Linked DNA regions of Homo sapiens: region 1 is linked to region 2. A link means that fine-mapping ties the variant in region 2 to the plasma level of a protein whose gene starts in the linked region. Region 2 holds a variant in brackets. A gene starts in the other region. All regions are shown on their reverse strands.

Region 1 (5,385 bases), not on the chromosome of region 2:
GTGCAATCTCAACTCACTGCAATCTCCACCTCCCAGTTCAAGTGATTCTCCTGCCTCAGCCTCCCAGGTAGCTGAGATTACACAATACGCCCAGCTAATTTTTTTGTATTTTTAATAGAGACAGGGTTTCTACTAAACGGGGTTTAGACAGGGTTTCACCGTGTTGGCCAGGCTGGTCTCGAACTCCTGACCTCAAGTGATCTGCCCACCTCGGCCCCCCAAAGTGCTGGGATTACAGGCATGAACCACCACGCCTGGTCAACATTTCTTTTTTGTGAAGGAGCTTGGTAAAAAAGTGCAGGCAGCAAAGCACTCCTCCATGATTCTCTCGGAAACCCAGGTCTTTACCCGGGGTGAATCTCTAGGGTACATAGTGCTTGTCTCCCCAGGGTTGTTTGGAAGATGTATGACATTAAATGTTTATGTATAAAGCAGGCTTCTTTAGTAATGGCCACAGAATGGTTTATAAATATAGTACCACATCTTCACTAATTTGCTCCTAGTAATGAAGCTCCTCCCACACAGTGCCTTGTATTGAACGAAGATGTTCCCTGCTCAGTTACACTGGGAGCCCCTAGAGGAGTTAGTCCTGCTTTGTAGTCCTACACCCTCCCTTTCATCTCTTACATGGAGAAGGTTCTCAATGGCTGCTGATTGCCTTATAATTACTTCCCATCTCTTTACCTTTCACAACCAGAATAAGAAATGCAGGGCAAATGTTCCTAAGTGATTTGCATCTCAATTCTGAAAGCTAGCTATTTCTTCAATTAGCTAAGACGTAGCATTATATTTATAATCCATTCTGTGGCTATTAGTAAAGAAGACTGTTTTACATATAAACATTTCATGTCATACTTCTTCCACTCAACCCTGGGGAGACAAGCACCATGTGTCCTAGAGATTCATCCTGGGTAAAAGCCTGGGTTTTTAGAGAATAACAGAGGACTGCTTTGCCACCTGCACTTTTTTACCAAGCTCCTGGCTCTCATGGCTTTAGCTCTAACATGTTGTATGGGTTTGGACACCTTGAAAAGTGCTTAGGAGGTCTTGGGGCCAGACCTGGATTCAAATCCAACCTCTTCCACATGTTACCTTTCTATCTCTAGGCAAGTTACTTAAACTGTGTGCATAGATCAGTTTCCTGATCTATATAAAGAAAATAACAGCATCTCCTCAAAGAGTTATTCTGAAGATGAAATGGGTTACTACAAGTAAAGCACTTAGAGCAGTAAGTGGAACAGTAAGCTCTCCATGAGCGTTAGTTCTTGCTGTGATTCTTTGGAGAAGCAGCCTAGGGAAGGAGAAGACCTTGTCCTGGCTCTACCATTTATTTGCTTTGTGCCTTTGGACATGGAAACACTAAGATTTCCATTTCTTCATGTAAAGTATTAAAATCTTGATAATGCATGGAGTGCCTATCTCACAGAGTGGCAGTGAGGTTCAAATAAGCTAATAGATGTGAAAATGCTTTGTAAACTATAAAAAAAAACTGTACAAATGTAGGGTAACAAATGCCATCTCTTTCTGTCTATACCTGTAAGCTTGCACTCATTTTGTATTATAGTTACTTATTTTTATCTGCCTCCTGCATTAGATTTGAGCTCCTCAAGATAGGAATCACATCTTGCTGTCTCCTATATCAACCTGTACATGAGTCTAGCTTGATGCCTGTACATGGCATATACTCAGTACAGGGAAACTGGAAGAATAGCAAACTCCTTGTGTGTTTTTTCGGGTGTGTGTTCCAGTAGCTTGCTCCCCTTTAGACTGTATGTGCCAGGACTATTCCACCCGACATCAGGTGTAGCTTCCCAGAGGGCTCACTGTGAACAGCATCTGCAGGCAGGCATCCAACACCAAGCTGAGCACTCATGTACAGACACTAAATGTGGGGACACCCTGTCCTGAGGCTCGGATCCCCAGTGCTCAGCCAGCAGCTGTTCCAATCCCCATGAGGTCTCTGAATGAGTCTCCTTACTACTGGAGAGACTACTAGTTTAGTTGCCCTCGATAGTCCAAACTAGGGAAATTGAGAAATTGAACCTTGGCATATTCAGTGAAGTCCAGACTAAGGAAGCTGAGAAACTGAACCTTGGCATGTTCACTGACCTCAAGGCCTTACTTCTTTTTCTTCCATTTCAAAATCTTCCCAAAATGGCAACTTTGGCTTTTGTGCCCCTGCTCCTAGCTCCCATCTTTCATGAAGTGGGTGTTCTTAGAGGATGCCATCTGCCTGATGGTGTCATGTATCTCTATATCCTGCAAGCTACCCACCAAATCCTGCTCACAGATTAAGCACTGGATACATACTTGCTGATTGGAATTTAAAGAAAACCAAAATAAGTAAACTCGACAGGAGATTAATTGCCTAGGAGTCGGTTGACTGCTTGACTGAAGCTGGATTTTTTTTGGGAACCGCTGGCTGCCTTCACATTTCCTGATGGAAGTGGGACAGGTCAACAGACAGCCCAGAGTGGCAGATAACTTTTGCCCACACGTCATTCATTTTTTGGAGCGTTGGCTTGAAATTGAGGGGTGTGTGTGTCTGGAACCGACGTGCCTTCCGTGCGCCTCCGGGGTCTTTGCACTTTCTTTCAATGGGCTGATTACAACACAGAGGATGTGGACAGTGGAGTTTTTCCTGTTTGATGTCACACTGCTACCCTTTAAAAGTCTGACGGCAAAAAGGAGGGAATCCAGTCTAGGATCCTCACACCAGCTACTTGCAAGGGAGAAGGAAAAGGCCAGTAAGGCCTGGGCCAGGAGAGTCCCGACAGGAGTGTCAGGTTTCAATCTCAGCACCAGCCACTCAGAGCAGGGCACGATGTTGGGGGCCCGCCTCAGGCTCTGGGTCTGTGCCTTGTGCAGCGTCTGCAGCATGAGCGTCCTCAGAGCCTATCCCAATGCCTCCCCACTGCTCGGCTCCAGCTGGGGTGGCCTGATCCACCTGTACACAGCCACAGCCAGGAACAGCTACCACCTGCAGATCCACAAGAATGGCCATGTGGATGGCGCACCCCATCAGACCATCTACAGTGAGTAGGGCTTCAGGCTGGGAAGAAGGGGAGCACCCTTGTTGTCCATCTACAGGAGGCTTGGGGAGGTTGGGGACTAGACTGGAGGGCTAATCCAACCCTCCTAGCTTTCTGCCCAGGAACCACTTATTGTCTTTGTGTGTGTGTGTGTTTGTGTGTGTGTGTGTGTGCGTGTGTATTTAAAACTTAGGGGAAGATTCTGTCACTCTCCTAATTAGCATTTGCTGGTTTTTCTCAATATGAATAATTTTTATTTCAACTAAAACCCTTCCCACAGTAGGAGCCATGTTCCCTTTGCCCCGTCAAAAGATTGAAAAAATGTACAGAAAGAAAGGCAAGGAGTCTAAGAGAAAAAGAAGCCAGGCAGATCAACAGACACTAAGTTTCAGCTCATGGACTTTGGACTGGGTTAACTAGGGAGGTTGTAAAGATTCCTGGGTCATACCCAGATTGTTATAGATAAATCTGGGGGCTCTTTCCAACTCTGGCCTTATAAAAATTCTTGGAAAAATGTATTAAAGACAGACTGTCCATGTATGTTGTCTTGGTGAGAATGGCCAAGTATACAACCCATCCACCCATTCATTTGTCCATGCATCCATCCATCCATCCATCCATCCATCCATCCATCCATCCATCCATCCATCCAACAGGTTTAATGGGTGTTTCAGACACCCAGGTACCCAGGTACCCAGTATGAGTTGGTGATTCTTCTCTGTGGAACTGAAAGGTGTCCAGTCAGTAGCAAGTCAAGCTAGTTAGAAACTTATTGGCAACATGAGACAACTGGAATGTTTTTAAAGATCAGGTTTGTGGAGAATTGGATCACAATCCACAATAATCAATCCATTAGCAATGATTCAAATGAGGGTCCCTTTGTGTGCACCTATATAAGGGGTAATGTGGTGAAAGCAGGGATAGATATTGAAAAAGACTGGATCTTCTATTTTAAGAAAACGTGAGAAAACACCTCAAAGCATACAGAAAAATGCAAACTGATCCAATATAGCTCAAATTAAAGGAAAGAAAAATTAGTTAGACAATCTCTAACTAAAGAAAACATAGGAATTATGATTTGCCCTTTATTGTTGTAATAAATAAATTAATTATTTTTGCTGTGACCTTGCTGTGTGTGAGGCATTTATTCTTCTAGGCTCCAAAGGTCCTTAAACCTGGTTGCAAGATATACAACATGCAAAATTAAGTTGCAAGATATATAACATGCGAAATTGACAGTTTAACCTCTTCAAGTACTAAATGCATATTGACAGGAGATAAAAGGAGAGAGGAAAGTTCTCTCCGAATACCAAACAGGTTCCAGAACTCCAGAGAATATAGTAAGACTCAGGAGTCAACATCTTGGAAACCAAGTTTGAGTCTCATGGCAAAAATTTCAATTAAATCTGGATACACTTGATGCACCCGAAGTGTTGTTCATTTTATTCAATGGATATTTAATAGGATCTACCATGTGCCTGGCATTCTACCAAGCGCTGTGGCTGAAAACTAAGACACAACCCTTCAAGGACCTCATGGTCTGTCGTCCTACCTTGTCAGCCAGCTCACTACCAGACTTTCAGGAAATGCAATTTTGCATGTCTCATGGAGGGGACACCCTTACTCTAATTCAAGACTATATGTGGGCCAGGTGTGGTGGCTCACGCCTGTAATCCCAGCACTCTGGGAGGCCGAGGCAGGCAGATCACGAGGTCAGGAGATTGAGACCATCCTGGCTAACACAGTGAAACCCCATCTCTACTAAAAATACAAAAAATTAGCCAGGCGTGGTGGCAGGCGCCTGTAGTCCCAGCTACTTGGGAGGCTGAGGCAGGAGAATGGCGTGAACCCGGGAGGCAGAGCTTGCAGTGAGCCGAGATTGCGCCACTGCACTCCAGCCTGGGTGACAGAGCGAGACTCCATCTCAAAAAAAAAAAAAAAAAAAAAAAAAAGACTATATGTGATTTAAAATGCAGAATAGTAGATTATGGTAAATTATTTTGATTCTCTTAGATGGAAAGGGCTGCATCCAACTAGAGAATGTTTATACAACTTGTCTCGAATCCTGGAATCCCGTTGCTGAAAGGAACTCCTTAAAGACGTTTCTTCCTGAACAAGAATTAGGGTAGAACAGAACAGGCCGGCTACGGTGGGGAGTGAGTGTGAAGAGTCAACCTCCTGGGCTGGCAGTCTGAACTTAGACCTTTTCCTTGAAAGCCCACCTCGTATCAGGCCCCAAGGGATCACTGAGTGCTAGTTAGAGTGAATTAAAATGACTGAGAAGCAGCAAAATAAATTGAACTGACTTCAGATTTTTAAAAATAGAAATGTGATTTTGTTTCCTTAGACATAG
Region 2 (5,385 bases):
GAACACATCTGGGATGCATGCATAACCATCCGCCAACCAAAGCATCCCCCACAGGGGAATCGTGTAAACATGATATATTTGTAATATGTGGGTACGTAACAATGTGTAAGAAGCTGTAAACATAGTTATATTTCCCACAAGCAGAATTTTTATTCTGTAGTGGGCTATATTTCAGGTCCTTAAGTTTTTCTTCCAACAAATGTACAACTAAATTCTAAGTCAGCTTAATGAGTATATTATGGGTGAGTATGGGGAATTAATATTGAATAAGATGCCAGCAATTATGCCAGTCACATTTTACACACAATTTCATTCAGTCTTCAACATACAAAGTAGATATTATTTTTCTCATTTTTCTTCTAAGGAAAAGTTTCAGGGAGGGTATCTTGCTCAAGACTGTACAATCCAGTGAGCGGCCAGCCAATGTCTGAACCAAAGTCTTTGTCTTCACAGTGCCTGTTAATAATAAGTAGAGCATGCTCTGCATATGCCACCTTGCCACTATGAATTCTATTCAAAAAGGTTATCAACACAATTTTATCCCATTGAGTGAAAACTGCAACTTGAATGACACTATGCTAGATGATGAAGATATAAAAACAATTAAGACACAGCACTGTTGGGCCTGGAAGCACCCACAATCTGGTGGTGGAACTGTGGAAAGAAGGCAGGAAGCCGTGAGGCAGAATACGACAAATGCTATTCAAAGGCACAAGATGTTCATCCTGCCAGGAATGTTTTCCCACGTTCACACCGTAGTGAGCTCCCTGCTCTTTTAAAGCCCAGGGCCACCTACTCTGAAATCCCTCACAGGCACCGTATCCTCTGCTTCTACCGCATCTGCACAATCTCTTTATCCTACTGTATTAGCTATGTTCATGACACGCCTGTCTTCTGCATCAGACTTCATTTTGTTTTTCAAAAATGATGGTTATCTGACTATAACATCAGTCGTTTTTTTTTTTTTTAAGAGACGGGGTCTCCGTCTGTTGCCCAGGCTGGAGTGAACTGTACTTTCTTAAAGACCAGAGTTGATCAGCTGGTTAGATCATATGATCCTACACAAATATCAAGTTCACTGGGAAAAGTAATTCCTCACAGAGAAAGAAAGAGGGTTCCCAGGTCAAGGGCACACTCAAAGCTTAGCTGTCCCACTAGAATCTCTACACAAGACCTCAAGATCCATTTATAGAAGCATGTGAAGTGAGCTCCTCAATGAAGTTGTCCCATTTTTATCTTTAAATACCCTATACAGAACATTTTTACACTGCTGGTGAGAATGTAAACTAGTATAACCACTATGGAAAACAGTGTAGAGATTCCCTAAATAACTAAAAGTACAACTATCATTTGATAGTTGATTATATTTGAAGTCATCATATGAAAAAGATACATCAACATGCATGTTTATAGCAGCACAATTTGCAATTGCAAAAATATGGAACCAGCCAAATGCCCATCAATCAACAAGTGGATAAGCTGTGGTATATGTATATTATGGAATACTACTCAGCCATAAAAAGGAACGAAATAATGGCATTGCAGCAACCTTGATGGAATTGGAGACCATTATTCTAAGTGAAGTAACTCAGGAATGGAAAACCAAACATCGTATGTTCTCACTCGTAAGTGGGAGCTAAGCTATGAGGATGTAAAGGCATAAGAGTGATAAAATGGACTGGGGACTTGGAAGAAAAGGTGGAAGGGGGGTGAGAGATAAAAGACTGCACATTGGGTTCTGCTTTGGTGATGGGTGCACCAAAATCTCAGAAATCACCACTGAAGAACTTATTCATGTAACCAGACACCACCTGTTCCCCAAAAACGTATTGAAATAATAATGAAAAAAAAACCCTATACACCTAGCACCTGCTTGGTACATAGCAGGTGCTCAATACCCATTTTTTAAATGAATAATTAATAAATGAATTAAAAAACAGCATAATCTTCCATTTTAAATATGTACTAAAAAGAGGGATTATATGGGGGACTGGAGGATTTTCTCATTTGTAAAGAACATTATGTTAGCTTGTTTTCCAAGT[T/A]GAAAATAAATTAAAAATGGTAACAAATTAACTCACATTGGAACTTGGACCATGGATCTGAAGTTATGCTCCAGAGGCAAATTTCTTCATTGTTTTTCAGCTTTGTTTCTGGACTTCATAATGTTCCCTGTTTCTGTCATTCTACAGAGGGACACACACAGGATTGCTGAGGATTCCCAGCAAGGAGTCCAGGATCCACTAAGTCCTTCAGGTCCAATGCAAGACTCAATCCTCAGCATCCTCCTGGAGTGTTGCCTGTCCAGTCTCATCTAGCATTACACTACAGTTCTTACTACCTTACACTGTGTTTGCTTATCTTCTGTAGTGTCTGAAAGGCCATAGAGCTTATCTTCTTAGCTATCTACAAAGCTCCTAAAAGCAAAACCTGTCTTCTACTTGTTTTTAATTCACTAGAGTAAATGTGGCTAACATCAGCAAGAACAAGTACAGATACCCAATAAACATTATTGTATGACTAACAATATCTCACATTTTATTGAAAATTCTTATGAACAAATATTAATGTACTTAATGTCATTTGAGCTTTAGATTAACAAGGTACACAAGGTTGATACTTCATTTTGTAGATGAACAAGCAGAAACACAGAAAATAAAAATGATTTGTCCAGAATAAAAAAGAAAAAGAAAAACAGGAAAACTCACTGAATTTGAATTTCAGACCAAAAAGAATTTTTAGCATAAGTTTGGCACTACGCTCTACCACCAAAATGCATGGGACATAATTATACCAAAAATTATTCATTACTTACCAGAAATTCACACTGAATGATGGTCAGTGTTTTCTCTAGCAACCCTAGCCCAAGGTCATATGATTTGTTAGTGTCAAGGCAAGGGGCAATTATTTCGTCATGATTAAAATGTTGACATGCTCATGTTAGTCTACATTTAAACAGAAAACTAACCGGTGGAGGTCAGGAAAAACATAAGTTGAAATGATAACAACCTGGGCAATAAAGGTTATCACAATTTCGAAGCTCTCTAGGAATAAAACAATTAAGCATAAAGTAACTACCAGAAGATATATTATGAGACATTTTAAATTCAGTGAGGGTTCCAGCTTGAGCCCAAGATGGAACGTAGGCAATTCCAGCAAACTTGTGGGGCCAGCCCCAGGAGAACCTGTTTTCCAAAAGACTTGAGAGTCCCAGGCAGAGCGATAACAAGTATTTATTGTTTGCCCACCCTGCAGTGATATAGAGTTAAACAAGACAAGTATGGCCCCTGCCTTCACAGAACAGAAAGCCTAACTGTAAAAAATCCCCCTTAAGGAACCAAGGCAACAGAAGCATCCACTTGGCCAGGTAATCAGACCTCAGAACCAGAGGAGAACGACTATTTTGAGTCTGGCAGTGTTTGTCCTGTGGACTATCCCATGTCTATCTTCATGGACTGCATCCCAGGAACAGAAAGGTTGCAAGGAGAATAAGAGAGAGGCTTCCTTGCAGCCTCTATCATTGAGAGCACTAGCAGCCTGCATTCCCCATGGCTCACAGAGCATAAGATGAACTAGATGGGGACATTTTCACCCTTCCCCACACCTCTTCCTCAGGCTTCAACATAGAAGAGAAGGGAGACATGGCAAAGCTATTAGGGGAGTGATCACTCAGGAATACACACATGAAACCCCAGGAACACTGAAACCTGCCTTGAGGGAACTTTCCAAGGCAGGAGGTGCTGTCAGTAGGTGAGGGCACAAGCTGATCTATCGGTGTTGATATGACCCCCATCAGTGCCACTGATGAGTCTTGGGAGACCTGGCTACACGAGGCAGCTAATTGCACTCGGTTGTCATTCATTGCACTGTGGAATGTCACCATGTCCATTTCAACCTTGACATTACCATGTGGCAGCATACGCGGGCTTCTTAACCTTATCTTCCTGAATTTACACCCAGTGGTTTAAAGTGCTTAAAGCATTTTTCATCATTCTAATACCAGTCATCCTAATTTTTACTCAGCTCTTTAAATACCTTGGCAAGCACATTAAAGGACAAGATGAAATATTAAATTTTCCCAAGATAAGACAACCTCCCAGTTCATAATTCTATATTGCAATAAGCCCTTTACAGAGAAATGTGAGAGAACTTTGAAATTAAATGTAACCAATTCTATCTTACAGCTCATCTAATGAGCTGCTCGGGATTTCACGTTTTCCTTTGCCACTGACACATCTGCCAAGTGATTAAAGGTGCTTTTTGAGTAGCAGAACGAGTGCAATACTTAAGACTTTCCTTAGGAACAAACATAACAAACCCAGGGTAGAGCACATTTTACTTGCTAGTGTTTTACAGGGAGAAAAAAAAAATATTTTATCACACAACAAGAATGTGTTGATTCACCCTAAACTTACAGATTATGCAAAAACATAAAGTCCTTTCCTCATCTATAAAGTGGGGTTAATAGTTTCTTAGTCATGGCAACATTCCAGTTCCAGTCATTCTTTTTTGGATATTTATTTCATTTCATTCTATTTATTTCTATAAATATCTCTAAACATTTTCACTGTCAGATTTTCTCTAACTCAGCTTACCCTTAGGTATAAAATAGTCAAAGTTGCAGTAAAATATGCTTTTTTCATATTAGCACAATTTTTGTAGATTTTTTAGTTAAAAAGTGCCTCAACTAAGTTTCCAAATCTTGCCTCCTACCCCCCAGTTCTCTTTATCTTTCAAAAACCACATGTCTTTTATGAGCTACAGCTCATGAGTTGAACCTCGGATCTGTCATACTTTCAGTGACAACATTCCCCTCTCTCATTCTCCAATAGCCACCACCTCTCTGAACTTCCTCTGCCTTTTGTAAGTCTGCATGCATGATGACCTATCATATGGCTCCCCTTGTTCTAATTACCTTCTCAAATTTTCTCTTGGCAAATACCTCAGCTTTTAGCAGTAAGTTCACATATAAGGAAATAAGAGAGGACACAAACAACTGGAAAGACATTCCATACTCACGGATAGGAAAAATCCATATTGTGAAAATGGCCATACTAACCAAAGTAATTTATAGAGTCAATGCTATCCCCATCAAGCTACCATTGACTTTCTTCACAGAATTAGAAAAAAAAACTACTTTAAATTTCATATGGAACCAAAAAAGAGCCTGTATAGCCAAGACAATCCTAAGCAAAAAGAACAAAGCTGGAGGCATCATGCTATCTGACTTTAAACTATACTACAAAGCTACAGTAACCAAAACAGCATGGTACTGGTACCCAAACAGATACATAGACCAATGAACAGAACACAGCCCTCAGAAATAATGCTGCATATCTACAACCATTTGATATTTGACAAACCTGACAAAAACAAGCAATGGAGAAA

Which allele goes with the higher level. Positions count from the first base shown, and alleles are read on the strand shown. Strength reflects both the effect of a copy and how common the allele is.
For the plasma level of the protein whose gene starts at base 2,695 in region 1, T is the low allele of the variant in region 2 and A is the other (weak association).

What was found. PIP is the posterior inclusion probability: the model's chance that the variant is causal. Protein levels are from antibody-based Olink assays in UK Biobank. Linkage for the fine-mapping came from a reference panel and not from the study's own genotypes, which makes the PIPs less certain.
Region 1: FGF23 starts here. The variant in region 2 is fine-mapped to the plasma level of the FGF23 protein (UK Biobank, PIP above 0.99).

Annotation. Positions count from the first base shown.
Region 1 is chr12:4,377,022-4,382,406 of GRCh38, reverse strand. FGF23 (fibroblast growth factor 23) reads left to right here and starts at 2,695. Exons shown (of 3, transcript NM_020638.3): 1 at 2,695-3,035. The coding sequence starts at 2,825.
Region 2 is chr13:32,931,599-32,936,983 of GRCh38, reverse strand. No RefSeq gene overlaps it. Among named protein-coding and RNA genes, the nearest start is that of LINC00423, 23 kb to the right of the region's middle. The variant T/A (reference allele first, on the strand shown) is at 2,043.